Linked DNA regions of Homo sapiens. The protein of the gene in region 2 purifies or fractionates together with the protein of the main gene of each other region. This does not show direct contact. Each region holds a gene or a part of one and is shown on either strand. Other genes may lie near its edges.

Evidence for each region.
Region 1: the proteins of CHD1L (region 2) and APLF purify together in Homo sapiens (affinity purification with mass spectrometry; 6 studies listed by BioGRID and IntAct, with this or other methods). This does not show direct contact.
Region 3: the proteins of CHD1L (region 2) and RNF166 purify together in Homo sapiens (affinity purification with mass spectrometry; 3 studies listed by BioGRID and IntAct, with this or other methods). This does not show direct contact.
Region 4: the proteins of CHD1L (region 2) and SUPT16H purify together in Homo sapiens (affinity purification with mass spectrometry; 3 studies listed by BioGRID and IntAct, with this or other methods). This does not show direct contact.

What each region holds. Positions count from the first base shown.
Region 1 is NC_000002.12:68,463,354-68,470,890, reverse strand, and holds the start of APLF (aprataxin and PNK-like factor), read right to left. Parts: upstream 3,307-7,537; 5' UTR 3,160-3,306; coding exon 3,064-3,159; intron 1-3,063. Other genes in the region: FBXO48 (F-box only protein 48), read left to right, coding at 5,746-6,051, 6,521-6,682. UniProt on the Homo sapiens protein: Histone chaperone involved in single-strand and double-strand DNA break repair.
Region 2 is NC_000001.11:147,273,649-147,280,954, reverse strand, and holds part of CHD1L (chromodomain-helicase-DNA-binding protein 1-like), read right to left. Parts: intron 5,602-7,306; coding exon 5,487-5,601; intron 4,852-5,486; coding exon 4,698-4,851; intron 930-4,697; coding exon 764-929; intron 1-763. UniProt on the Homo sapiens protein: ATP-dependent chromatin remodeler that mediates chromatin-remodeling following DNA damage.
Region 3 is NC_000016.10:88,703,374-88,711,095, forward strand, and holds the start of RNF166 (E3 ubiquitin-protein ligase RNF166), read right to left. Parts: upstream 3,036-7,722; 5' UTR 2,953-3,035; coding exon 2,798-2,952; intron 209-2,797; exon of another isoform or gene 1-208. Other genes in the region: CTU2 (cytoplasmic tRNA 2-thiolation protein 2), read left to right, coding at 3,158-3,225, 3,763-3,837, 6,565-6,643, 6,850-6,909. UniProt on the Homo sapiens protein: E3 ubiquitin-protein ligase that promotes the ubiquitination of different substrates. In turn, participates in different biological processes including interferon production or autophagy.
Region 4 is NC_000014.9:21,373,899-21,381,204, forward strand, and holds part of SUPT16H (FACT complex subunit SPT16), read right to left. Parts: intron 1-7,306. UniProt on the Homo sapiens protein: Component of the FACT complex, a general chromatin factor that acts to reorganize nucleosomes. The FACT complex is involved in multiple processes that require DNA as a template such as mRNA elongation, DNA replication and DNA repair.

The DNA.
Region 1 (7,537 bases), on a different chromosome or scaffold from region 2:
AGTGGTGAACTGATGCCACCTGAAGAGTCTATACTGAAGCCTATGACCTTCCCTGTTCCCCCAACTGAGGACTCTTCTCCTTTTAATCAAAGCAGTCAATTTAATTACATCTACATTGAGAAAGTATCACTAGATATCTTTTGCTATCTTGTTTCCTAGGAGGAAAATAGATCATAAAGAAATGTGTCATATAATCCCTGCTGTCAAAACAAAATAAGAAAAATCTGAAATCAGAAATAGTAGATTTCATTTAAGAGTGTAACAGCTTTAATTAAAACCCATAAAGCAAATACTTTGGCCTAACAGTGCTTGACATGTCGTACTGTAAAACCCTTTTAAATTAAATTTCTTAAGATAATGGTAGATTCACATGTAGTTGAAAGATATAATATAGAAATATCTCTTGTACCATTTATCCAGTTTCCCCTAATGGTAACGTCTTACAAAACTATAGTACAATATATCAACCTAAGATATTGATACTGACACAGTCCAGACAAAGCACATTTCTATCACCACAAATATCCCTCATGTTGCTATTTTATAGCCATATCCATTCCCTTCTGCCCTGCTGCCTAATTTTTTAACCTTTGGCAACCACTAATCTGTTCTCCATTTTTGAAATTTTGCAATTTCGCAATTTCAATGATGTTATATAAATGGAATCACACAATATGTAATCTTTTGGATTGGCTGTTTTAACTCAAGTTCTCTGAAGATTAATCCTGCTGTAAAACCTTCTAACTGATGCCAATCATGGAGCAGAATCAAAATCTAGTAAACAAAGACCTGGGGTTCTCTGATGACTCACATGAAAGCAAAGGGAACAAGAAAGATTAAATTTCATTGTCCTTTGTTCTCTGTGACAGGTTTCTCTGTTGTGTTTTCCTACCACCATAAAAATACAAAACCATTCTCATTGTCAAACTGTTTTACTACCAAGACTATTTTACACAGTCAGATTATAAACTTTTATGTTTGTGTGGCCATCAAGGTTTGTGAAGCTTGTCTCAGAAAAACATGCCCAATTAAGAAAGTTCAAAATCATCCTTATTTATATTAATCGTTTCCGATTCCAATTTACAATGAACTTACTGAGTTTTCCACTTAGAACTCAGTCTTCGCTCTCTCACAATACAAAAATAAATCTCACTGGAATTGCTGTTGTTGGAAACAGGAGCCCTTATGTTGTGTTTTAACCAGTGCAGAGAAGAATCGAGTGCATCTGTCAGCTCCAAAATCGAAAAAACTACAAGGCGATTTGTTTGTTCTCCAAATTTTTCCTTTAACACACTTAGGATGTCATTCATAACCACTTCTGATACACGCCAACCTTGGCAAAAGAATCTCATCCCTGAATGTTATTTCAAAAGGAAAAGCAAAATCTTGACCAGGTAATTGCCCAGCTTTCACTCCTTACCATTTTTAAAAACAGATACCAAATAGGCTCATCTCACATTAGCAAGTCGACAACACAAAGAACAAGCTACAAATAATGAAACGGTCTGCAATCTGTTGCCATGTTTCTAAACCACGGCCCTAAAATTCATCCACCTTTTAACCAGACCCACAGTACTCTACTGGTGACAATTTCTTAAGCAAGTCAAAACTCGTTAGTCACCAGACATATGATTACTAGATTAAGCACATACTCTTAAGTTTCAAACCTACGAATTTAAAAGAAAAATAAAGCCTCCAGACAGTTCCTTCCAGTGTTTGTATAGGCCAACAAACGATGAAAAAAATAGAAATGATGTTAAATATTTAAATAATCACTTGTCCAGTAAAAAAATGAACAGCAATTGAATATCTACTTCCTCAATAACCTTACCACATGCACATGTGCATGTACACAACACACAACACACAACACACACACACACACACACACACACACACACCCCTTTAGGACCAGCTTCCATAATACAATCTTAAACTACCACTCCTTTCCCTGCTCCCAGAAGGGACCTAAGGCAAGTACCAATGGTTCCATTTAGACTCTGGAAGTTAACCAGGACAACAGTACACACTCCTTACTCCTTGGTGTTAGCTCACTGACACAGGTGTCTCCCCGGTCCCAAGAGAAAACTCCTAAAGGGTAGGGACCCATGTTCCATTCATCTTTGTATGCCCCACAGTGCTAGAATCTGCAAAATGTTCTACACAGTGAGCACCAAACAAGAAATGTTGAATGTTAAAGAACAAAATAGAAAACTAGATGTACTTAAGAGATCTATAGAATTCCAGAATGCAATATGCAAATGTTCTTATTCCTAAACCTCTCCCAAAGAAGGTAGAGAATATTTAGCTTTGTGGCATTATGTGTCCAAAAGCTTATGTATGGACTTTAAATAATGTATGTATGGCTCAATTTTCTCATCTGAACAATGAGGATAATAAAAATAGCTAACTGATACGGTCTTGAGACAGTTAAAGATGTTGGTATAGGTAATGTCTCCTTAGACCAATGACACGAACGCTATACACATTACTTATGAAGGGTTAGCTACTCATTTTACTGGAAATAATAAATAATATAAATAAATAAGGTCCACACAGCTCTGCAAAGGAGACCAAAGGTTAAAAGAAATTAGCCTAGAAGACGTAATATCACAGTTTGGCAAACTTTTCTGTAAAGGACCAGACACTACTGTAAATATTTTAGGCTTTACAAGACAAGCCGCAATACCCTCAACCCTTGGAGCAACTATTCCCCCTGAAAAATTAGTAGATTTTTTGTTTACATTTTACATTTCAGAATTTAAGAATCATTCTTAGTTCATGGGGCCATACAAACATAGGCTGGATTTGGCCCCCAGGCACTAGTTTGCCAATCCCTGGATAAGATAATAATGGTAATACAGTCAGTGTTTTAAAAGCAACATAAAGAAATGTTTGTGAATTGGCTTAAAGGTAACTGAAAAACGTGCGGCCCCAAACTTCTAAAATCCGGACCGGCGGACCAGTGCGGTGGGGAAACCGGCCAGGACTAGGGCCGGTCTTCAGGAGCCGGCGCGGAACTCCACGGCTCTCGGGGTCCGCTAAGCCCCCGCCCACACTTACTCCCAGCAGCGGCCCGCGGCCGATCACCGTCTCCCCGGGCGCCAGGGCCACCCGGGGACCGCCGTCCCGCGGCTGCAGCTCGAAGCCCCCGGACATGGCGGGCAAGGATTAGGCCCCTTCGCCAGGAGACTGGCCCCTCCGCTGTTTCCGCCCTCCACAGACACGCGCGGGGCAAGCCCACGCCCTGGGAAAAAACACCGAGGGAGGGCCTCAAAGGCTCCCCGCGGCTGCGCCGGTCCTCTCAGAGCCCGGCCCCAGCGCAGCTTCACGAGTCCCGCCCCTCCACGCCTACTAATGACGCAACCGGGGATTCCCCAGTCTCGCCGCCTCAAAACTACTGTTTAAAAACCCCGGCTTATTCCCCAACACCCTTTTCACCTCCCTCCCATCTTGGAGGACGCCGGGCCTTGTAGTCCTGGTGGCTTTCTTCACTTCCTTTCCCGAGCGGAGACGCCCTGGAAAAAACTACCAATCCCCAAAGGCACTGCGCGCCCCTCTCGGCGCCTGCGCGAGTTCTGAGCAGGGCGGGACTCAGGTGGGCGGGATGCGAAGAGCTATGGGGAAGGATTCGAATTCCGGTGGATTTAAATCGCGGGAGGAGAAGCTACCGCGGCCTAGTAGGTAGAAGGGTCTTCCGTTCCCGTTGGCTTAGGTGTCTACGCTCCCGGGGACGCGGCCTGGACGCAAGCTCAGCCTTCCCTCCGCGGCCTGGAGCCGCAGTGACAGTCAACGCTGACGGTTGTTGTCACTTGTCAGTGCCCTGTGTTCTTGGGTTCCAGCAGCTGCAACCCGCGCGGGACACAAGGAGGGTGGCTCAGACGGGACGTGGGGTGATTAGCCCTGACCCGCGGGATTTGGACGGAGTGGGGCTCCCCGCCCCTCCGACTGCGCTGCCGCCGATCTATCCCTCCGAATGATAGTTGAAAGGGGGACGAGCTTTTACTTCACTTGAGAGAGAATTCAGGAAAGCTCAGTTCATAAAGGAGAAAGGGCAGAAGAGGGGTCGTTTCCAGGCATCCAGGCGAACCTGGACGTAGAAGAAAGATTCCTAGTGGGATTTTAGAAACTCGCAAAGGTATCCCCTGCTGTGAAATTCAAAAGCCTTCATTCCCGTTACAGGAATTCCACAAGGGGACGCATTTTATTCTCCCAGTAAGATCCTGGGAGAAGTGGATAAACACACTGTAACGTTTAAATGCACTGTAACGTTTTCCTAATGTGAGATTCTTTTCAAGAACGTTGTGGTTTGGCTTTGGTTTGTATTGGTGGTGGGAGGGGCCAAGGTGCATGGCAAAAACTTGCTCTTGACTCACCCGTTTTTACGTTTGCTTTCTTACTTCTCCTAACCCTCAAGAAGAAGACCTCTGTTGAACACAGACTGCAGTTCCAGCCACCACAGCTAATCTGGATCATGAATGGGAGCCACCGTGGTCTTGGCAAGTCCGAAAACATAGCTGAGTAGCTCGTCTAGAAAAGAGATTTGTGTTCAGCTGAGTTAAAAGAAGTATTTACCTCAAACCTCTCCTCTTGCACAACCAACCCCCGTTATAAAAGGAAGTGCAAAATGGAATAAACTGATTTTAAGTGAATACAAGCTGTCTTTATATACAAAAGTAACTCAAGGATGGTGATGTACCCAGTCATGCTTTCAACTGATTTGGGAAGCCTACACCATTCACCTTAGGTAAATTAGCTGAAACTGAGCTTTAAATCTGGGCTTCAAAGAGTCACATACTGTACCTAGCTGAGTTCTAAACATTGTTTACAGTTGTCACTCACTGTTGCTTGATGTCTTCAGTGACTATTATCCTTAGCTTGTAATTATGCATGTAGGATAGCTTCAAGGGGCCATTTCTAAAACACTACTCTTATGACTGAGTTGAATATTTGAGACTTTGTTTCATAATCCAGATCTCATCTTCTTGTCCATTTCAGATAGTAGTTGTGTCAAATGTAAGCACCTACCTACCTATAAGATACAAGTAGATAAAATTCTTATATAAACAACTAGAAGTCCAGCAAGTTTATGATTAAGTCACAAATTGCAAATTAATGATGAGGCATCAGTTCCCATGTACAACAAGTATTCAGGAGTTTAATAGGATTGACTCATATACATTTTCAAAGGTACAAAAGTACCGGGTATGGTGGCTCATACCTGTCATCCCAGCACTCTGGGAGGCTGAGGCAGAAGGATTGCTTGAGGACAAGAGTTCAAGACCAGCCTGGACAACATAGCAAGAACCATTTCTCCGTAAAACAGTTTTTGGTTTTCTGTTTTTTTTTTTTTCTTTTTTTTTTTTTTAAAGAGGGGCGGGGTACGCTGAGTCAAGAGAATCGCTTGAGGCTGGAGTTTGAGGCTGCAGTGAGCTATTATGACACATCTGCACTCCAGCCTGGGTGAGAGTGAAACTAACATGTTGGGTGCCTCCCATGTGCAATTCAGATGTAGCAAGACTAGATATTTTACCCACTATCACTGTTAATCCTTGCAAGAACTTTCAGGAGAGCGGCAGCATTGGCCCATTTTACAGATTGAGAAGCTAAAGTCAAGAAAGAGTTCTTAAATTATACCCAAAAAGCATCTGACTTAAAGTAGGATTTATACTCCTATTTGGAGACTGAGCATGTTTAAATTTTGCCTTTTAGGTTACATATGAGGATAACTTAAAACATTAAGCTATGCATAAAAACTCCAAGAGAAACAATAATTTAAGAGTTTCTCACACAGAAGCGAACTCTGTGGATGCTGAGAAGGAAAAAAATGAGAGTCAAAACAACTTTTTTGAACTGCTGCCTGCAGAAATCACTTTTAAAATTTTCAGTCAGCTGGACATTCGGAGTCTGTGCAGGGCTTCATTGACATGCAGGAGCTGGAATGACACAATAAGAAACAGTGACTCTTTATGGAAACCTCACTGCATGACTGTAAGAGCTGTGTGCCGAAGAGAAATAGATGATGATCTAGAAAGTGGTTATTCCTGGAGGGTAAGTTTAATCTTTGCGATCTGCAGTGTTGTTGACAGCGTTATGATAGCAGGTTTGCGCCAATTCTAACTTCTGCTTGGAGGAGTCAGAATTACATATGCAGAATAACACAGACAGTGTGTTGACTCTTGGAAATGAGTTAAAGTTATTAGTCTTTTCCTGCTAACCACACTGTTTCCACACTATCTTTCATTTATCCTTTTGCATTTTTAAAATTCTAAATTCGGGAATTTTCCTGCGTTAACCAGAAGGGAATTAGCTCCTTCTTTCCACTTCACCTTATGCCACTCAGTATAAATACACATATACATACACACACGTACACAGACACATACATTTATTAATGTACGTATATATAAATGTAAATACTCTTTTTTTCAGCCCTGTCAATCTGCTTCTCTTGCTTTAAACACATTCACTAACCAACCACCTACTACAGTCTTTTTTAACGGTGATTTACCTCTTTCAGGTGATACTGCTGAGGAATTACCAGAAGAGTAAAGTGAAACACGAATGGCTAAGTGGCAGATACAGCAACATTTGTTCTCCCATTAGCCTACCAGAAAAAATCATGTACCCAATGGATGCAGATACATGGGGGGAAATTCTAGAAGCAGAACTGGAAAGATAAGGGGAAAAAAAATCACAAATCTCAGGTCTTTGAAAGTTTAAAACTTAAATGACTCTTAGGTTGCAAAAGCGATATCTTTATTCGTTCATTTTGTTGTTCACCTTTTTAAAAGAAAATGAAATGGAACTATTATAAAAGTAAAGCTTTATTTTTGTTTTGCACTTTAGTAAAATTTTTCTGGTTTTATTGTAATGTGGAAAAATCATGAAATGTTATTTTTATAAGAAATAATATACTGATAGAGTGATTTCCAAATACAATGTTTCATGTATTTGTGTTAATATATTTGCAATACTAAATGTAAGAGTGATTTGTATGTTCAGCTTAATGATAATTCAAAATTTCAGGAAGCCACTTTAAACTGACTTAAAGATTCATTAAGTGGTGGTTATAACTAGGCTCATGGGAAGACTAGCTAAGTGAAATTAATAGCAATACATTTAAATTAATACATTGACATTTTAATGACTTTAACATTTCTATTTCAGTGGAATCAGATTGAAATGTCAAATAGTGAAACTATTTTTAATGTGTTAAGCCTGTGGTTTAGTTTTAAGTTAATGTCATCTCAGGGCTAAAGTTTGTCCAATTGAGATTCCCATTAATTTTATATAAACCTGGAACGGCTCTCAGGAGCTGAAAGTAAGTGGAAAGTTTCCAGAACACTTTACCATCAGAATGCCACACTAGCCTGGTAAAACTCTCTTTCTGACAGCCTTATAGCACCATCTAGTGTGCTATTCTTAGATAGCAAGACAAAGGACTTTCAGCTCCTTTTTGTTTTCTCCATATTAAAAAGAAAACTGTTATTCTAAAGAATCCTTAACACTTGTCTTTGTTAAAGTTTATAACTTT
Region 2 (7,306 bases):
CTATTGTGTATAATTAAAAGAAAGTACTGGTGAATTAAGAAGCCTAGTAAGACTCCCAAACCTCTCACCCCAGTCCATATTGAATCTCTGCTGCAGCTGGTACAGAAAAATAAGTCATTTCAAAATAACTACAAGATGCCAGGGAATACCTTTACAAAGCTACCATGTGAAAAATTACTTCAAATCGGAAATTTAAGTGCTCAGAATAGAAAAGAACAAAATGACAAATGCTGACCAAATTCAGGAAAGAAAATTAAGAGAAAGACAAAACCATCTCCTACATCTCATGGATTACAGAAATTAAATGGAAAAAGCACATGACAAAGTCCGCACTGTTGATGAACGCAAAATAAATGCTTAATGTTAGCTGCAATTTTAAAAACAAGTAATTCTACTGTTTAGAAGAGGAATCGCTATGTGCAAAGCATCATACCAAGGATGGTAGGCTTTACTAATAAAGAAGAAGATGTTTGCAACCAAGGGAGAAAAGGTACAAATTCAAAGCCTTAAGATTGATACTATCATAAACATTAATACTATGATTTTGGTTCACAGTTCAGCTACAAGGGAAGAGCCACACAAATTTCCAGTTAGTTTGGGTAACGTTCTTTTATCAAGCAAGTCTTAAACAGTGTGCCCAAATGACAATAGGGTAAGGGAGAAAAAAGATGCCCCAGAGAGCAGCATCCAAAACTTTCCATGGGGACGTGAGCTCTAGCTTGGGGTGGTTGTGCCATTTGCTCTGCTCTAACCTCCAACTTACTTCCTTCCTCTTGATCTCTGCTCCCTCCTTCTGCTGCAGGCAAGGCATCAGAGACCCACTGGCCATCTTTTGTTTCTCCCAGGATGGACTCCAGGTCTATTTCATCCATGGTGCTCCCCTCAGAGGCCAGCAGTTTATCCAAACCAAATTTGAGTATCTCACTCAACTTGAATAGAGGAAACAAAAAAGTCCAGCAAATTCTCATGAAAAGAAACATTAGGATATCAGTGATTGGCTAAGTGGATTAACGACACCAGGCACAGTCCTTCTCTAATGAACAGGCAGCCTTTCTGCTCTCCCCATCATAGATAGTAACAGCCAGGGCCATTTAATAGTTGGATGATGGGTAAGCAGAGAGGTGATAAATGATTATCAGAGGTATTGACTTTGACAATTCTGCATAAAAACAAAACAAAAAAAATGTATAAGCCTCCAATTTTTTTGAAGAATAATAGTAACTTCCTGCATTTTCTACAGCACCTCTCACTGACTTTTTCATAAGCATTCCCAGCAGCCACTTGAGATCAGAGACCCTGTTAGCTACTTTCCAACCTCTCCACTGCCAGACTCCTTAGAAAGGGAAGGCTACACTAGGAACTTTACCTCTATCATGAACTGACTCCTTTTCTTTGGCAATTTGTTTTCCTAACACAGTGGTCTATCGAAACCACCTTGGCAAAGATCAGTAACAACTTCTGACCACCAGACCCGAAGGCCTTTTCTCAGTTTGAATTTTTCTGGATGTTCCTCTGGCATTGCACTATCCTGCTTCTCTTCTCTCGTCCCTCTCTGGAGTACTCTCAGCCTATTCCCTATGGCTGTAGGAACCATGCAGAAAGCACAGATAATTTTTCCTGGCTTTCACTTGCTACTTCCAACTTTGCACCTCCGTAAGCACTAATTCTGAGATCCTGACCCAAGGTGGATTCAAACCTTGGGCCCTTGTTCTCATCTTGCCCTTTTAGACTGGGTTATCTCCAGATCGTCTATTTTGTGAGTAACTTGGAAATGTTAAGGTATTCTGTAACAGCTTGAAGAAACAATAGACAGCTCACTTAAGCATGAATGTACCTAGATATATTATATTTACCCTCCATACACATAACCAGGATGACTGGCTTTGGCAGCTGGTACCAAAAATAGTAGGAAGCCAACTATTTATGATAAGAATTGGTCCATACTGGGACCCTCCCTTTCACCCCCTTGTACTTATGCTCACCTCCTGGCTCTCCCTTGTTATTGCTCACTTGCAATGTGTCTTAGTCATTAAGAAAATTACATGTGTTTTTATGAGAAGCTGTATATTACAGTAATTAAGGGCATGTGCTCGGAGGTTAGAGAGTGCTTGGATTGGAATCCTAAATCTGAATAACCTTGGGCAAATTACTTAAGATGGGGATAAAGATAGTGTCTATCTCATCCTGCTGTTATTCTTATTTACTGAAACAACTGGAAAAGAGCACCTCAGACAACACTCAGCACACAGTATCCAATAAGTGTTCACTACACCTGCATCTGCCTGCCTGTTTCTACTGTGTCCTCCCTGCAGGATAAAAAACCTGTTTCCTTCTTTCAGGACTTCAGAACTCCATACCTACTGCTTAGATTTACCAAATCAGAACCACATCTTTTACTTTTGGTTTCTTGGTATTTAAAAAAAAAAAAATACCCCCAGGCGCAGTGGCTCATGCCTGTAATCCCAGCACTTTAGGAGGCCGAGGTGGACGGATCACAAGGTCAGGAGATCAAGACCAGTCTGGCCAACATGGTGAAACCCCGTCTCTACTAAAAATGCAAAAATTAGCTAGGCGTGGTGGTGCGCGCCTGTAGTCCCAGCTACTCAGGAGGCTGAGGCAGGAGAATTGCTTGAACCCGGGAGGCAGAGGTTGCAGTGAGCTGAGATCGCGCCACTGCACTCCAGCCTGGCAACAGAACGAGACTCTGTCTCAAAAAAAAAAAAAAAAAAAAACCCAAAAAACAAAAACAAACAAAAATCCCCTGCTTTCTTTTTAGACAAGGGCTCTGGGTTATCACCTTTGCTTTTGGTAACCACAAATAACTCATAGCATCTGCATGGGGAAGAGATAAATCAGACATTAGAGTCAGAAAGTAACTTTCCGATAACCATGAGCTGGGCAAGAAGTCCAACAGAGTCGCTCTCAGCCAGCAGTCCATGTTCCCACTCGTTTGTGGCCCCATGGGGTGGAGGTATGTCTACATCTTTCACAGTGATGTGTCCAGCAGCCCACATCACAAGATACCCCTCATTGGACCCCTGGCGCTCCCTCCACTGGGAGAGTGCAAACAACCTATGACATCCTTCCTCCTCTAACAAGAGAATGCGGGCCTTGTGAGGCTCTGTCATTTACCCCTTCACTATGCCCAGCAGTGACCTTCTCTCTCTTAAGGTTCTATGGATAATTTTTCTGTGGAAAACTGCATTTAAGGGTATCTACAGCGTACCTCTACCTCTCTCTCAAGCTTTCATCTCACATTTATAATTGTCTCTTAGTGTGAAAACAAAATGTACAGCCTGCCCTAGCACCATTATGGTTAATTAAGCATGCATGTGACACAGTCAGCAACACAAGGAAAGTCAGAAAAAGAAAAAAGCCACACCTACCCCCTAAGATAAACAAAGAACAAACCCAGTGTTACTCTTTCTAGTTCTAGTCCCAAAATTAATAAAACCTTGAGCCTTTCCTGTAATTACTAACTCCCTAACAAAAACAACAGGATCCCTGTCTTTTGCAACACTGATATGTAAAGATATGCACTGGCCTTTGCAGATACGGTAACCATGTAAGAAAACTGCTGTTTTTTCAGACTAATTACAAACTTAGTAACTCTGCTTCTAATATTGTGTCACTTTTTCTCTCTTAAACACTTATGTTTTTTGATGGACTAGTCCTTTCCAATCCTAGTCCATCTTGCAAACTTTTACAAATAAAATTCTTTCCTTTTGTCTGAGTCTGCCTCTAACAATAGTTTGTTTATATTGTATTTTTACTGCACACTCTGACTAAAGCCTAAATTCTCTTTATCTTCCTAAAACTCTGCCCTACTTCTTATTTTCCTTTCTTCTCTCCTCATCATAGGGGCCTAAAACCTCACAGCCATCTTTGAATTTTCTATCTCCCTACTGTTGAGACCCAACTCTAAACAGTAGCCAACTCCTGTCCTTCCTTCTTTTGCAATGTTTCTCACACCAGACTCTCCCACTGATGCTGCCCTTGACAGACATTTATTACTCCCTTCATACCTGCATCTTTCTAGTATCCTAGGAGTTGGTCTCTTTGCATCCAGCCCCTCATCCTTAGGGCAAAAACAAAGCATCCAGGAAATATTATGAGTTTTAATTTTAACCCAAGGGCTGCTACAGAGTAACTCTAAGTCCTCTTCCAAAAGAGAGCTCTAAAATCTTCCAATCCAGTGTCTGTCTCCCATCCAGTACTCCCTTCTTTAAATAAATTACCTCTAGTTCTTTCACCCATTTTTTCTAAGGCACAATTATGAATTCCTGATCTCATTCGCCCTCTTCTGAGTATGAAGTAATGTAAGTCACTGATCAAAGGCTCTGGGACTAAGGTGGAAGTACAGAATTAATTGTTATTGAGTTCTTTATTTTAACTAATTCTCTTAACAGCCCTCTGAGCTAACCTGTGGTGTCTTTATTTTTAGAAATGCAAAAAGAGTAGATCTAAGAAGTTAAGAAAGCCGCTCAAACCCAAACAGCCAAGAAGTGATGAGGCTTGGAACTAATCCTTACTTCCTACAGACCCTGCACACAGCCAGCACTGTGGCAGGTGTGAGGGAGGCCAAGGAACAAATGTGTAGCTGGGGAGAGGGTGAGTGCTGGTTCTTTTCATTTACATTCTCCTCCACAAAGGGTATTGGTATATTCCAAAGTGAAGAACAGTATATCATATCATACCTGGAGGTCAGCATCGGCAGCGGGTTTCTGGGCTCCCAGAGTAAAATGGCCTCCTTCTATGATCATGTTGGTGAGCTGCAGTTTGGAGGCTGCTTTCCTATAGACTATTTCTTCCACAGTGTCTCGACCAATCAGCCGAATAACTTTAACAGACCTGGACATAAGTCAAACAAGGGTAGTGTGCTATAAGGGTGTGCAAAGCTGGGCAAAAGTATGCAAGGTAAATACATCTAAAAGCAAACAAAACCAAATACCATATTCAGGGTACAATGAAAGGGAGATTGGTTCATTTGGTCCTGAGCACTTGTTAGAGAGAACTCGCCTGAAATTCTCTCTGAACCATTCCAGACAGTCAAAGAAAGAATGATGGGGTAACCATGACTGGGATTCCTTATCTGTAGCCAAGGAAAATATCTGGAAGATCAAATTATCCTCAGATCAAAGGGCAACATCTATCTTTCTTTTTTTTTTTTTTAGCTTAGCTCCATAGCCCCATAACCCCATTTTTTAACTGAGTCAGACCCTAACTCAAGAAGGATGAGTTAAATGACTTCTAAAGTTTCCTTCTAATCCTTTCACAGTTTGATTTGACTCCTTCTAATAAAGTCAGTCTGGACTGATAATGTGACCCACCCAATACTACCCTAGGAGTCAATAGCACAGATGAGCTAAAACCTGGTGGTCTCTCAGCTCCCAGTGTGGGACTGTCACCAGGACTATATTCTTCACCTTTTTCACAACCCAGAACTGCTGCTGGGCAAGCCAAGGAAGCAGAAAAAAATCACTTACTTGTTTTGGCCAATGCGATGAGCCCTGGCAGCTGCTTGCAAGTCATTCTGAGGATTAAAGTCACTGTCAACAAAAATCACAGTATCTGCTGCTGTTAAGTTCATGCCAACTCCACCTGAAAACAATGCAAAAAGGAATGTAATCAGCAGCACAAAGACGAGGAGCTAGAAAATAAGCACAAGGCTAGAGTGGGTCAGACTGATAAACTGAAATCAGTCAAAACAATTGGCTTCATCCTTCAAATGGACCCACACCCCTAACTCCAAAGCCTTGTTCCAGCGGTGAGAAGTGCTACCTGACCTCTTATTGCCTGATGGGAAAATTTTTATTACTGAATGGAACAGAATGAGCGGAGCAGGGGCAAGTGGCCAAGGTGGATACTTAAGTCAGTGCCATGGAGCCACTTTATCTCTTCTGCTTAAAAACCTTGATTAGATTTTGATTAGAGTAGTCTGAGGAAAAGGACACATGCTCTTTCAGAAAACAGATCTAAATATGAGAGGTCTGCAGTGCGCACTGTCAAGAGAAGAGTGCCGAATGTCGCTTGCAAGTTACAACTAGGTAGCAAGATCTCTGATAAAAAGTTAATGAGAAGAGTGGATGATATTATACTCCTGAGCAGAGTGGGAAACCTCCTCCCTCTGATTAGAGAAAACTCCAGTGAGTCTTTTTTGTACTGGTTTCCACATTAATCAAAAAGAAAGTAACAAAACCAACGGCAAGACAAGAACACTCTTGTCATTTACTCTGAGTGTTCTGAGGCTTGCTCAGAACACTCTTGCTGGTCTTTCTTCAGTGCTGCAGGAAGAGAGCTGAGGAGGTACCTTGAGTTACAGGAATTAATTAAGAGAACCGTGAAGGTACATTGCAGCCTTCTCTTTGATTAATGTGAAAACAAGTACAAAACAGACTCCCTCTTGCCAGGGTCGTTAGAGCTGGTTGCTGAAACAAGCAAGCCTGAAAGGGCTTGTTCCATAAACCTGAATTAAGGACTAACTTTTAAGAAGGACTACTGACCATAAGCTGGATCTCCAGACAAATCAGGCAGGAATATTCTAATTAAAGTCTTCGTATCAAGTTGAAGTTGGAACAAGGAGGTAATCATGACCGATTACTGAGAGATGCTAAATTATACCTAATAATAATGATAATGACACTTACGCTGTGCTTACTACTTGCCAGGCATTATTCTAAGCACTCTCTCTATATTAACTCCTTTAACCCTCACAACAACCCTGTCGGGAAGTTGAGTAGTTGCTACGATTTTCCCCACTTTATAGATGTTGAAAGGGAGGGTAAGGGACTTCTCTGAAGTTGCAAGCCTAGAAGGTGAAAGAGCCAGGATTCATTCCCTTGCAGTCTTGGTCCAGAGCCCGTGCTTTTATCCACTATACTATAATACTTTTCAGGTGCTTATTTCATTTTAAAATGTGTTCCATAAAATTATCTTCTTGAATTCATGTTGTCTAAGTGCAGCTCTTCACCGAGGGGTGAGATTTTTATAAATAAGCCACACCCACATCCATGAATAGGAACATATTCATGAGCTATCACTGCCATCTGGTGGCAACATGACTCATCACAGAAATATTTGAAATTTGGAAGGAAACCTGTTAAATAAATGAAAATACTGCAAAACTACAACAAAACTGTGACAGCAAACACAACAGTGTTTGGAGAAGACTAATGTCCAGGACTGCTTCAGCTCCCAGATCTACTCTGAGTCCTCCAAGGAGATTAACTGAAAAGCAGAGATCTCTTTTTTCCTAATTTTAGACATTTCAAACATAATGCTGCTCTCTGAATATGAGGATGATGAA
Region 3 (7,722 bases), on a different chromosome or scaffold from region 2:
GAAAAGGGTCCCAGGCAGAGCTTGGGAAGAGAGGAAAGGTGCCCAGAAGGTTGGCTGGGAGGAAGACAGCCTCGTCCTCCCCGGAAGGACTCAGGAAAGACACAAGAGGGAACCCAGCCCGACTGGCAGGGCGGCTGGGCCCGAGGAGCAGGAGGCAGAACGAGGCACCCACAGGGTGGGTGCTCTATCGGCCTAGTTTCCAGTGACTGCCAGCCTGGTGTTCAGAGAGCCAGCAGCCGGGAGTAGTGCCCGCTTCCCCCACAGGAAGTTCCTGTCTGCGCCCACCCAGGGGCTGGTGCTGAGCAGCTTCTCAGCTGAAGGAAGTGGCTGAGGGCGATGGGTGTGGGGGCGTCGACAGCCTTACAAAGGGAGGGGCGATCGCGCACTGGCCCTCCCAGCAGGCACCCGGGACTGCCAATGTGTCTCCCACACTGGCCGCTGCACAAGCTGAGAAGCTGGGACGGCCCGTGCCTCAGGGATCTGCCTGGCTGGCAGGCCAGCACCCTCAGCAAGCCCCACAGCTGTCCTGCACGAGTGGAGGCTGCTCACACAGCCCTTCCAGGCAGGTTCGTGATCACGCGTGTCCTGGCCCACAGGCTTCTGGTTACAGAGGTGGCTCACTGCTCAGACTGTCCCCTGGCTGAGAACAGCTCCTGCTGGGCCCCCAGGGGGCCTCCTGCGCGAGGGCTAGAGCAGGGTGCATGCCCCCACACTGGGATACTCTTGCCATGAGAGATCTACCCTGGAGGAGGAAGTTGCTCTGGTTGGGGAGCTTGCGGAGGGGACAGAACCAGACCAGCAACAAACTTCCGAAGGGAACCTGAAGAGCCTTTAAACTTTCTGTGGTCATTTGCATGCATGCCTTAGCAACACCAACAAGAAACAAAGTTAGAAGCAGAGAGAGAACAGCCAGAAAACAAAAGCCAGCAGGAAAAGTCGGGGAGAAAAATCTTTGAAAGGCAAAGGCTGTGTGAAAAGCTCTTGCAGGACCCGCGGTGAGACTAGGATGGTCGTCATTCTACCAAGAAAAGCATGGCAGAGGGGAGTTTTATAGGAAAGATGCTCCACAATTCCATGTGGTTCTGCATTCTGTGTTATGGAAACTACATTTTAGGAAAAGACATATTTGAAAAAGAAGGGCAAAGACCAATTTGTGCAGGTTAGGAAAGTGGAGATGCTGTGGCCGACCACACGGTGAAGGTGTTGGCACCCAAAGCCTACGGGAGGCTTTTCTAAAACAAGGCCTAAGTCAAGCCTCACAGCGCTCAGTAACAGATGAGAAGGTGCGGAACACACCTTCAAACACCCGCTACCTGCTCACAAGAAGGAAGTCCTGCCAGGCGCGGTGGCTCACGCCTGTCATCCCAGCACTTTGGGAGGCTGAGACGGGCAGGTCACCGGAGGTCAGGAGTTCGAGACCAGCCTGGCCAACATGGTGAAACCCCTTGTCTACTAAAAATACAGCAATTAGCCGGGCGTGGTGGCGGGTGCCTGTAATCCCAGCTACTCTGGAGGCTGAGGCAGGAGGATCACTTGAACCCAGGAGATGGAGGTTGCGGTGAGCCGAGATGGCGCCACTGCACTCCAGGCTGGGTGACAAGAGCAAGACTCTGTCTCAAAAAAAAATATTCCCGTTCAGAGGCTGCCCCCCCAAAATGTCACGGCTAAGTGAGATGGAGGAGCAGGGGCAGAGCCTGTAGCAGCCTCACAAGAGAAGTAGGTAGAGCTGTCCCAGCGTGGGCAGGCGCCTGTGCTGCCTGACACAGGTAATGAAGGCAGCTCTGCATCCTGACACTGGCCCTGCCACCTCCGTGGGTGACCAGCACACATCCACCTAGCAGTCCCAGCTCCCTCTGTACCAGGAGCCCCTGAAGTCAGCTGACTTTGCTTGCAAAATGTTCTAGAGCCTCCTACCAGTCTGGGTGCACCCCCCTCCACTCCACCACCTCAGCAGCTTGGATGTCTGCGGGGAAGCCCTCCTGCTCTCTCTCTCCCCTGCCACTGCTGATTTTGCTCAAGAGCTGTATTATTCAGCACTTAGGAGGGAGCAGACACTGATCTAGGCTTCCTCCCAACGGGGCTGGCAGCTCCAGAATACTTGAGCACAGCTCCCCGCCAGGAGAGCCACGTCCTCCAGTTTCTGTTCCTGAAACACCCTGGAGGAGCCGGCTGTGAGCCCTGGTGCAGCTGGAAACCCCAGCAAGGTGGTCAGTGTCTGCTCCTCTGTGGACCAGCCTGCCTGGCTACTCAGTGATCGGTGTGACTCAAGTTCTCCTTCAAACAAAACTAAGAACATCAGACTCCAAACAAGCCCCTCTAAACTTTAGGGAACTCCTTTCCTCTGTAGTCAAAACAGGCAGACAGCGGGTCCGAACAAGAGTTGATAGCAAAAACTACAAGTTATTTATTTACAACTGCCCATTCCAGCCGCACAAGCCCAAATCCACCACCACTGGCGGAGCGGTGGCACCTGCTGCCCTCTGAGTACCGGAGCGCCCGCCGCAGCCGCCGGGGACCCCGAGCTTGGGCAGGGCCGCAGGTCGCCCGGTGAACCGAAGCAGCAGTCGGACCGGGCGCCTGCGGCTGGCGCGAAGGAGGCTGGGCGGGGGATGAACGCGCCCAGAGGGCAGAGGCGGCGCGGCACAGGGAAACCCGGACCCCACGCGCCCCGAGGCCCCGGCGCCCCGAGTCCCCGCGCGCCCAGTCCGGAGCTGCACCGGGGCGGCCGCCGGCCTCGCGACCCCTCCCGCGGCGGGGCACGGCCCCCTCCCCGCGGCCCCTGGGCGGGCGCGCTCACGTGTGGCCGCAGCTGCCGATGGCCACGGGCCGGTGATAGACCTCCAGGCAGATGGGGCAGGTGTACTGCGCCTCCAGGCCGCTGTCGCCGCCCGCCGGCCCGGCCGGCGGCTGCCGCTGCTGAGCCGAGGCCACCAGGCTGCGGAACATAGCCATCCCGGGGCCAGGCCCGCGCCGCCCGCCGCCCGCTGTCCTGGCCCGGGCCGGCCCGCTAGTCACAGCCGCTACTGCGCCGCGCTGACGTCATCGTAGGGCGCCGCCCCCAGCCGGGCTTCGCGGCCGTCACGGCGCCACTCCGACGTCATCGGGGCGCGCCCTCGCGCTGTCGCCGCCACAGTCTGCGACGGGACCCGGCGTGCCCATGTGTCAGGTGGGCGAGGACTACGGGGAGCCGGCGCCTGAGGAGCCGCCCCCGGCGCCGCGGCCCAGGTAAGAGCTGGCGGCCGGACCCGCCAGGCCGCCCCTCGCCTTCCCGCCGCACTCCTGCCCCGAAGGGTCCCGGCCGGGCTTGCTCCGGGAAGCCCCGCGTGGAGAGCGGGACCTCGCTCCCTAGCACTCGGGGAATGCCTGTCAAGCGGTGACGGCCACCTAGAAGGGGACTTACTCCACTGGCTCGCGCCTCTCATCCTAGCAGCCACTGGGGACGGCTCTGCCGCTGACAGTGCTGTCCTTATTCGGAGAGAACTGGTGCCGTGAAGCTGTCTCGCCTCCCCGTGTCAGCCTTGGGAGACTGAAAAGCGGCCTTTATGTGCCCCCTGAGCCGGCTTTTCTAGGCTAAACATCCCCCCAGAGCCTTTGTTTTTCTTGAAGTTTGGACAGAACACAAGCCTGGGTTTGTGTGTGTACCGAGGTGCCTTTCTCTGACCCAACTCAGGGTGAGAAACAGGAGCTGTCTCCCCAAAGCCCACTAGGCGTGGGGAAGATGTGATCTGTGTTTCTCTCTTCTCCCCCCTCCCATCTCCAAAGCCGTGAGCAGAAGTGTGTGAAGTGCAAGGAAGCGCAGCCCGTTGTGGTGATACGAGCCGGAGATGCCTTCTGCAGGTGAGGCCTGGAGGTGGCTGAGACCCTGGCAAACATGGCCTCGCTAGCAGACAGGATAGCCGCAACTTGTGATGCTTTGTTAATTCTTTTTAAAAACATGTACTTACTTTATTCCTGCTCCTGATGGGGTCCCTCGTGCCCCTGGTGTTGAAGTGGAGGCGAAAGCATTGGTTTCCTGCTTGGGAAAGTTTCCCATGAGCTAGCCACAGATCCCCTGATGAGGTTTCTGATGGAACTTATGGGGACAGTTGGAAGTGGGGCCGTGGTGTCTAGACTGGGATAAGCTGTAGGAGGACCAGGCGTTTGGGGGCAGCTGGAATACATCTAGGGGCGGATCAGAGCATCTTGGGAACTTGGCAGATGGTCTGGGTGAAAGTTTTTAATCTCGTGTGAGATGCTTGTTTCATCTGTGGCAGGATAGAGGCTTGGAAGACCTCTAGCTTTCCCCCAGGCGCTTGTCATGTCTTTCTTGGCTTGTAGCCATTGTATTGTTCAGTTGTTTCCACTAGACTCATAGCTCCCTGAAGGGAGGACCAGGTCTCTCTCCTTTTAGCCCTCTTAATTCCCAGTGGTGGTGCGTGGTTTTTTTGTTGTTGTTGTTGTTTTTTTTGAGATGGAGTCTCCCTCTGTCACCCAGGCTGGAGTGCAACAGCTGGAGTGCATGATCCCAGCTCACTGCAACCTTTACCTCCTGGGTTCAAGTGATTCTCCTGCCTCAGCCTCCTGAGTAGCTGGGATTACAGGTGCCTGCCATCATGCCCGGCCAATTGTTTTTGTATTTTTAGTAGAGACAGGGTTTCACCATGTTGGCCAGGCTGGTTTCGAACTCCTGACCTCAAGTGATCCACCTGCCTCGGCCTCCCAAAGTGCTGGGATTACAGGCATGAGCCACCACACCTGGCCAAGATAGGTACTTCTTTAACCACCCAGGAGCATCTGAAATTGCCAAGAACACCAGGCTGCCGGCAGAATTCACTGAGGAGAGGCTGCTGTGGCTGTATGCTAGGCCCTTGTGGCCAGAAGGGCTTTTGCTGTGCTTGCTGGTCCCAAGGAACAGTGGGGAGCCGGCTCTCTAGGGGAAGGCCTTAGGAATCTACATCGAGCTGGGATCCCCAGGGATCATTCAGGTCAGCACGTGGGAGAAACCTTGGCCTTCCCTGACCCACAGGGGACAGCGTGGTTTCAGGAGCCCAGACGCAGCATGTACACGTGGACCCACCACGCTTGAATCCCAGCTGGTGGTGTAGGGCGCAGAGGCTCTCCTGGTCCACAGTGCGGAGGTGAAGCCCAGCACCTGTGTCTCCTTGTATGAGACTCCCCACGCCCAAAGCTGGGTCCTGGGGGTCACTTCCCATGTCCCAGCCTTGATACTTGCCAGTTACCTGCAGTCCCTCACCTGGCATCTTGCTGTTAAACACAGACTTGCTTTACTGTCTGTAAAGGAACCACAGGGGGGTCATTCGGCCTCTTGTACGTGGTATCCATTCAACGTAGGGAGGGACTGCTGTGCACATCAAGTGTGTCTGACAGGAAGGAAGAGACTTAGAGCCCCAGGTGCAGGGTGACTCTTGCAGTGGCATTGTCCGCTCTGTACCGGGTGCTGCTCTTCACCCTGCCTGCCAGGATTGCAGGAGAGCTTTAAAATGCAGACTCCTAGGCCTCACCCCTAGACAATTTGACTTAATTGGTTTGTGCAATTCTAACATACAGCCAGGGCCAAGAACCCCTGACGTAGTGAGCCAGAGTCAGATGGCTGGAAAGTTTATTATGAACAAAGATTACAGCTGGGCGCAGTGGCTCATACCTGGAATCTCAGCACTCTGGGAGGCCCAGGCAGGAGGGTCACTTAAGGCCAGGAGTTTGAGACCAGTCTGGGCAACAAAGTGAGACCTTGTCTCTACAAAAAATACAACAATTAGCTAGGCATGGTGGCATATATCTGTAACCTGTAGTCCTATCTACCTGGGTGGCTGAGGCAGAAGGATCACATGAATCGAGGAGTTTGAGGCTGCAGTGAGCTATAACTGTGGCACTGCACTCCAACCTGGGTGACACATCGAGACCCTGTCTCTTAAAAATGCAGTTCCCAGGCCTGGAAGTTCTGATTCTGTGGGGTTAGGGGAGGAGCCCAGGCCACTCTGTGAGTGAGCCTCTTAGCCATTCCTGGCCCAGTTGAGCCCAGCACACTAAAGATGCCAGCTCTGGGGCCCCAGGATACTGAGCCCTCGCTGTGGCCCACCCCATTTCCGCACTTCACCCCAAAGAGGTGGTGTCTCTGCATGGTGGGTCCTCGCTGTGGCCCGCTCCATTTCCACGTTTCACCTCCAAGAGGTGGTGTCTGTATGTGGTGGGTCTTTTTTTATGGGGTCTGGGTTGGCCTTGCCCTGTACGTGCCTAAGTCTGTCCACTCCACCAGCTGGGCCCTTCTGAGCGCCTGTGGGGAGGGGTGCCGGGGCTCTGCCCTCGTTTGCTGGATGCAGCCTCCGTGGCTGTGCAGTTTGTACCTGGTCGTGGGAGGGGCCGGTGAGCCTCGTGTTCACCCTGAGGAAGCCACTGCCAGAGGGGCCAACCCCGCCCCTTTCACCAGTCTCTGGACAGAGCCTGGATGTGAAGATGCTGCTTTTAAAGATGGAGATTGGCAAAGGACGTCGTCACCTGGCAGCGCCTCAGGACGCTGCTCACTGTGCGGGTAGCAGGCGGTTCCCTCATCTCAGGTCTGTGTTGCAGGGACTGTTTCAAGGCCTTCTACGTCCACAAGTTCAGAGCCATGCTGGGCAAGAACCGGCTCATCTTTCCAGGCGAGAAGGTAGCGTCTGGGTCCTGGGGGTCTGACTGAGCAGCCTGGCCCCTCGAGGTCCCTGCTTGTCCCTCCCACAGGCAGCCTGGCCTGCTGCAGCCCGCCAGCTCCTCCTTGGCCTTTGAGGACAGACTCGATGTCCTAGATGTCCACGAGGTGGGGTGTCTGCCTGTGTTGGAGGTGCGGTGCCCTGAGTGATGTTTTTTCTCCCCCAGGTGCTCTTGGCGTGGTCTGGGGGGCCTTCGTCCAGCTCCATGGTCTGGCAGGTTCTTGAGGTGCGTGTTCACCACCCCGTGGGCCCGGGCTGCTGGGCTGAGCTTCAGGCTGGGGGCCTCCCTTCTCAGCCTGCTGAGGGGCTCTTGGTTGGGGCTAGAGAGCAGTCCACCCTGCGGCCTGGACACTTGGGGGGTTCTCAGATGTGTTCACAACAGGTGCACCAATCAGGAGCTGAGTCCACAGTGTGTGTGTGCGGCCCACTCTCAGATGTGTTTACAGCAGGTGCACAAATCAGAAGCTGGGTCCACAGCGCGTGTGTGCGGCCCACTCTCAGATGTGTTTACAGCAGGTGCACAAATCAGAAGCTGGGTCCACAGTGCGTGTGTGCGGCCCACTCTCAGATGTGTTTACAGCAGGTGCACCAATCAGAAGCTGGGTCCAGAGTGCGTGTGTGCGGCCCACTTGACTTCTGTCCATTTGCTCAACCTGCGTAGAAACACAGTCAGTGGAAAGCTGCATCTTGGCTCAGCCATGTGTGACCCGAGGGAAGATTGGGAAAGGGGCGGGGGTTTGCCAGGAGAAGCAAAGGGAGCAGCGTTTGAGGTGGAGGCGGCGGCCCGCGCAGGGAGGTGGAGGCGGGCTTAGGCTGCACACAGGGCTCGGCTGGGGGTGGTGGGGCTGTGCCCGTGGCCTGTCAAGGGTCAGCTCAGGAAGTCTGAGGCAGGTCGGGCTTCTCAGGAGGGCACAGGAGCGGGATGTGCTTGGTTTCTCTGCACTCTCATGAGAGGTGCAGACCGGAGGAGGCTGTTTCTGTGGGCTGGGTGGTTGAGAGGAGAGGGGTCGGCTTTGCCGGGTTGAGGAGTGGGGTGTTG
Region 4 (7,306 bases), on a different chromosome or scaffold from region 2:
TTTATTTTCAGTAGAGACAGGGTTTCACTATGTGGGTCAGGCTGGTCTCGAACTCCTAACTTCAGGTGATCCACCTGCTTCGGTCTCCCAAAGTGCTGGAATTACAGGCATAAGCCACCATGCCTGGGCCAAACTAATTTTTTATATTCCAAAATCATCTTGCACTCTCAAAGATAAGCCACCTTCATCTTAGAATCTTTCAAGGAGTCATAATTTATGCAGAAATCTACATATGCCTTCTTTTTTGGTTCAGCCACAGAAATTTTAATAGAGAGATGTAACCCCAGGGCAAAATGAACACTTCAACAACATGAAATCACAGATGCCTGGCCAGAAGGCCACATATCTGAGGTTTCATGAAAGCACTGGAAGCCATGGTAGTTTTTGTCCTTGTAGGTTTTGTCAACCTCAATACCAATGTCCTTTCTGGCTGATGGAGAGACGGGAGTTCTTTATTTTTTAAAAAAGTTTTATTGAGACAGAATTCACATAAAATTCAAAAGCATACAATGTAATGATTTTTAGCAGAATTATGCAACCATCACAATTTTGGAACATTTTAATCTCTATGTCCTTGAGTACAATCATTCCCCAACTCCCCTATCTCCATCTCAGCCCTAGACAAACCACTAACCTGTCTCTATGGATTTGTCTATTCTGGACAATTCATATACATGGAATCAAATAAAATGTGGCCTTTGTGTCTGGCTTCTTTCACTTGTTTTCAAGGCTCATCTGTGTTGTGACACGTATCAACACTTCATTCCCTTTTACTGCTGAATATTTCATTGTGTAGATATACCACATTTTATCTATCCATTCATCAGCTGCAGGACACTTGGGTTTTCACTTTCTGGCTATTGTAAAAAATGTTGCCATGAACATTTGAATATGTTTTGTATGGACATTTCTCTTGGGTATACATATACCTAGGAGATGAACTGCTGGGTCATATGGTAACTTTTCGAGGAATCATCAGACTGTTTGTCACCATGACTGCACTAGTCACTATTTCACATTCCTAAGAATGTATCAAGGTTCCAATTTTTCCACGTTAACCAACAGTTTTTATGTCGTTTTGATGACAGCCATATAATGAGTGTAAATTAGTATCCTGCTTTTTTTTTTCTTTTGAGACAGAGTCTCGCTCTATCACCCAGGCTGGAGTGCAGTGGTGCAAACTTGGCTCACTGCAACCTCCGCCTCCTAGGTTCAAGCGATTCTTGTGCCTCAGCCTCCCAAGTAGCGGGACTTCAGGTATGCACCACCACGCCCAGCTAATTTTTATATTTCTTAGTAGAGACGAGGTTTCACCATGTTGGCCAGGCTGGTCTTGAACTCCTGACCTCAAGTGATCCGCCCCCACTTGGCCTCCTGAAGTGCTGGGATTACAGGCATGAGCCACCACGCCCGGCCCTCACTGTAGTTTTGATTTCATTTCTCTGATAGCTAATGACGCTGAGCATCATTTCATATGTTTACTGACAACTGTATGCCTCTTGGAGAAATGCCTGTTCAGATCCTCTGCCATTTTGTAGCTGAGTTGTTGCTTTATTATTGAGCTGTAAGAGTTTTCATATTCTAGACACAGGATCTGCAGACATTTTCTCCCATTCTGTGCATTTTATTTTCACTTTCTTGATAGTGTCCTTTGAAGCACCAAAGTTTCTAATTTTGAAGTGGTACAATTTATCTATTTTCTTTTTTATTTTGGAGACAGAGTCTCACTCTATCCCCCAGGCTGGAGTGCAGTGGCACGATCTCGGCTCACTGCAACCTCCGTCTCCTGGGTTCAAGCAATTCTCGTGCTTCAGCATCCCAAGTAGTTGGGACTCCAGGCAACTGCCCCATGCCTGGCTAATTTTTGTATTTTTAGCAGAGACTAGGTTTTGCCATGTTGGCCAGGCTGGTCTTGAACTCCTGACCTCAAGTGATCCTCCTGCCTTGGCCTCCCAAAATGCTAGGATCACAGGTGTGAGCCACTGTGCCTGGCCTATCTATTTTCTTGTGCTTTTGGTGTCATATCTAAGAAGGTTCTGCCTAATTCAAGGTCACTCAGATTTACTTTATACTTCTTCTACAAGGGTTTCATAGCTTTAGCTGTCACAGTTAGGTCTATGATTCATTTTCAATTAATTTTTTTGTATGGTCTGAGGACTAACCCAACTTCATTCTTTTACATTGAATATCTAGTTATTACAACACCATTTGTTGAAAAGACTATTCATTTCTCATTGAATTATCTTGACATCCCTGTCAAAAATTAAATGACCATAAATGTGAGGATTTATTTCTGAATTTTCACGTTTATTCCACTCTTCTATATGCCTATCCTTAGGCCAGTACCGTGATGTTTTGATTACTACAGCGTTGTAGTAAGTTTTGAAATCAAGATGTGTGAGTTCTCCAACCATCAGATACTCTTCAATAGCTCTATAAAGCCAAAACACTGGTCATTCTGAGCTATAATTCTGACTTCCCCTATAAAGTCAAGATAAATGCATACATAAGACTCTTCCACATTTTTAAGGCTTCTGCTTGTTAATAAGGATATATGATAGCAACTGAGTGTTCTGTTGTATTTCTCTACCACAACAAAATATATTATGCAAAGAAGTCACTACATAGAAATTATATGCCTTTTCTCATTGATTTTCAGTAAGAAATGTTTTCCTTCAGGTTGGTAAAAAGTTTTACCATTAGTTCTCACCAATAGTGAAATAGTAATGGCACTTAAAACTGCTAGTCCCTTTGTATGAGTCAAGGTAGTGGCGCCAAACTACTTCTCCATTACTACACACTCAGGAAAAAAGGCCAGTTTCACGTAAAAGTCCTTGATGAAGTAAAAATGATTACCATTATAAAATCCCAAACCCTTGCATTTGTCTTTTAATATTCTATGTAAAGAAATAAGAAGTTATAAATAAAGCACTTCTGTGTGCAGTGAATTTATGATGGTTGGCTAAGTAAAAGCACTTGAATACATATTTCAGTAGCAAGATAACTAGCCATTTGAAGACCTGGATTAGCCAGGCATGGTAGTAGGCACCTGTAATCCCAGCTACTCGGGAGGCTGAGGCAGGAGAATCTCTTGAACCTGGGAGGTTGCAGTAAGCCGAGATTGCATCACTGCACTCCAGCCTGGGCGACAGTGAGACTGTCTCAAAGAAAGAAAAAGAAAAAAAAAAAAAAAAAAAAGATCAACAATGAACAGATTTAACCAAAGAGGTCTAAACCTTACTGAATAGGAATTTCAGAAACAAAAGACATCACTAAGGAAATGCAGGGACCAAAATGATCAAATAATGCACCATCCTAGGACTGAAGAATATGAGCTTGAGACTAAAAGGATTTCCCCAAAAGAGACATATCAAAGCACATTGCTGTGCAATTTCAAAACAGAAGGGATGATTCTAAATTTCAGAGAGAACAGGCTATGTATGTATACTGGAAATAGAATCATATCAGCCTTCTCAAAAGTAACACTGAAGTCTTTGACGCCAAATAATGGCTTCAAAATTCTGAGCAAAAAATGATTTTCAACACAGAATTTTATACCTACTGCATTAACAAAGCCAATAGAGTTGACTTTGGTTAACTATATTATTAACCAAAAGTGAGGGCAAACTAGCACTTTAAGACATGCAAGGGCTGAAGACATTTATATTCTATGCATCCTTTTTTTTTTTTTTGCATGGGGTTACAGTGGAGCTAGTGGTGAGCTTTTTATTTATTCTTTTTTTGAGACACAGTCTCACTCTGTTGCCCAGGTTGGAGTGCAATGGCACGATCTCAGCTCACTGTGGCCTCTGCCTCCTGGGTTCAAGCGATTCTCGTGCCTCAGCCTCCTAAGTAGCTGGCATTACAGGAATGTGGCACCATGCCTGGTTAATTTCTGTATTTTTAGTAGAGATGGGGTTTCGCCATGTCGGCCAGGGTAGTCTTGAGCTCCTGGCCTTAAGTGATCTGCCCACCTCGGCCTCCCAAAATGCTGATATTACAGGCGTGAATGAACCACTGCGCCTGGCCCATCTTTTCTTACGAAGTTCTTAGAGAAAATGTGCTAAAGAAAAAACAAAGCAGAGGCTCTTGGATATAGGGGACCCAATATTGCAAAGTCCCGAGGTTCAACAGGCCTAAAGAGTAACCTATACAGATGGAGCAGGATAATGTGGGGGGTGGAAGTGGGGAGTGAGGTTGCTTTTAAGCAACAGAATAAAATTCTGAGTGTGAGAAATTTAGAATAAAAGACTGGTAACAGGATAATGTGGGGGGTGGAAGTGGGGAGTGAGGTTGCTCTTAAGAAACAGAAGAAAATTCTATGAGTGTGAGAAATTTAGAATAAAAGACTGGTAACATTATAATAGATTTATTGGAAAAAATTAAGGCTAGGGAGACTTTTTTTAAAGGAGAAAAACTGAGGAAATCATTAATGCCAGGAAAAATAAAAAACTGTAGAAAAAAAGGAAAGTTAATCATACTTTATTACTTCACCCAGCAGTGAAAACATCTATATGAACATAAACAATGTAAATAGTAACTACTTATTTTACTAAAAATTGTGGGGAAAAGTTATGAAGAAGGATGGATGTGTGATAAAGCAAGTACAACAAAATGTTAACTGTGTGGGGTGGTGGGTATAAAGGGTTTACTTAAAATTCTTTCAACTTTTCTGTCTTTAAAATTTTTCATATCAATGTGTCAGGAGAAAAATGTTAAGGTATCAGGAGGTAGGGAAGTTGGAATGAGTGTGATGACACAAAGAAGTTAAATTCAGATTTACCATAAGTTAATAACCGTTAAAAATTCACAAATCAAGAAATAGCAGTATATATAGATATTATTTAGAAATATGAAAGAAACAAAAAACTCAAAGTGGTTGCCTCTGGGATAGGTGACTTTTTGTTTTAAGGCTTTTATTAGAACTATGACTTTTAAAAAACTATATCTATTACTGATTAAAATAATTTTGAAAGTGAGAGTTAAATAAAATATAAAACAGGTGGCAAAGAATCTGCAAAAATTGTGAAGGTGGTATCTGGATGATAAAAGTTGGAGAAATAGTGCAGCAGCAGAACAACTATCTTCCTTTGAACCAAACTGATACTGCCTTAAAAAAAGAAAGTATTTTTGCAGTCTGGTTGTAGCTAAATACCCATATAATCAGTTACCACTGTTCACTGAGTGACTTCTATATGCCAGGCACTGTAGTTGTTAATAGGGATAAAAAGTAAATATAAAAAGTAGAGATCTAGGGCTGGGTGTGATGGCTCATATCTGTAATCCCAGCACTTTGGGAGGCTGGGGTGGGTGGATTGCTTGAGGCCAGGAGTTAGAGACCAGCCTGGCCAATATGGTGAAACCCCATCTCTACGAAAAATACAACAATTAGCCGAGCATGGTGGCACACACCTGTAATCTCAACTACTCAGGAGGCTGAGACACGAGAATTGCTTGATCCCGGGAGGCAGAGGTTGCAGTGAGCTGAGAATGCTTCACTGCATTCCAGCCTGGGTGGCACAGTCAGACTGTCTCAAAAAAAGAAAAAAAAAAAAAAAGTAGAGAACTAGACTATAAAAGCTGAGTAAGCAATATTTAAAAAAAAATCTCAATCCATCTGGGCATTTATTTCCATCTAACCCTCCTTACTCAGCATTATTAAAAAGTTTCTTGGCCAGGTGCAGTGACTTACACCTGCAATCTCAGCACTTTGGGATGCCGAGGTGGGCGGATCGCTTGAGCCCATGAGTTTGAGACCAGCCTGGGACAACACGGTGGAACCCTGTCTCCACAAAAAATACAATAAAATAAATAACAATAATAATAATAATAAAAATTGGTCAAGTGTTGTGGCATGCACCTGTGGTCCTAGCTACTCAGGAGGCTGAGGTGGGAAGATCACCTGAGGCTGGTTTGGTTGAGGCTGCAGTGAGCAGTGATTGTGCCATTGCAATCCAGCCTCAGCCACAGAGTGAAACTCAAAAAACAAACAAACAAACAAACAAACAAACAAAAAAACCTTTCTCTATCCCACTCCAGAGATAAAGGAGCTATTAAGAGCTGAGTGTGAGTGGAAGTAATCCACTGCCTGACTGAAATAACAGGAAATGCCTATACAGCTGGCTCTCCTTATCTGTGGATTCAACTGTGTACTGAAAATTAAAATGGCCAAACATTTTTCTATGTCATTACCCCCTAAAAAATAAGTATAACTATTATTTACATGCACTTACACTATATTCGGTATTATAAGTAATCTAGAAATAAAAAATAATGGGAGGATATACATAGGCTATGCAAATATGCCATTTTGTTATCAGAGACTTGAGCATCCTTTGATTTAGGTATCTAGGTATGTCCTGGAAGCAATCCCTGACAGATACTGATGGAAGACTGAATTTTTTTTTTTTTTTTAAAGAAATGGGCTCTCTCTCACTATGTTGCCCAGGCTGGTCTTGAACTCCTGGACTCAAGCAATCCTTCCACCTCAGCCTCTGGAGTAGCTGGGATTATACAGGCATAAGCTACTATGTATTTTTTAAAATCCTTCCTGAGCCACAGAACATAGCTGTTGAATCTTAATAGAACAACCCAGAACAAGAAACTAAGCCACCATAAAAATCTGCAAAGAGCCAGAAAGCTCCACTCAAGAGAAGCACTGACACTTTAATTCATTAGTTTCTTCAAAGGCATAAAATTTCTTTGGGGTCAGTCTTCCACTACCCCAATCCTGACAGTTGGTGTATGCTCACAAGAATGTGAGTATTCCTTCTGAAAACAAATATTTTTGACATTTTATGGAATTCTTCAAGAAAAAAGGCAGATGAAGTCAAGGTCCACTCATATCAGAATGTCCCAACAGGTAGGTCTCAAATGATATACAGATATGCCTGGATATTGTACCACTCAGCCCTCAAGGCAGCTGGAACCCTGGGATGGTAGATAACCTCTTTTGTTTCTCCCAATGACCAGCACTAATCATATTACTTGGTTAAAAATAATCGTAATCATGAAAAGGCTGGCAATCCCTGAAGAAGGATCTAGTAGGCATAAGAGGACAAAGAAACATGCAGCCCATTTCCAGGAACCACCACTACCACCTGCGATATTCTAATAATACAGAGAAGGTGCTGCAAATCCTTTCTGCTCTTAGCAGCTCTCACTTAAAACATAAGAGGCAAGACTGGATCTAGACTCAAACCTCCAGGAGTCATAAAACAATAGTACGTTCTAAGGTCTCCTGTTGATTTTTGACTGACTCCATTTTCCCATCTCTAAAATGACACGATTTACTTAGATACAGGGC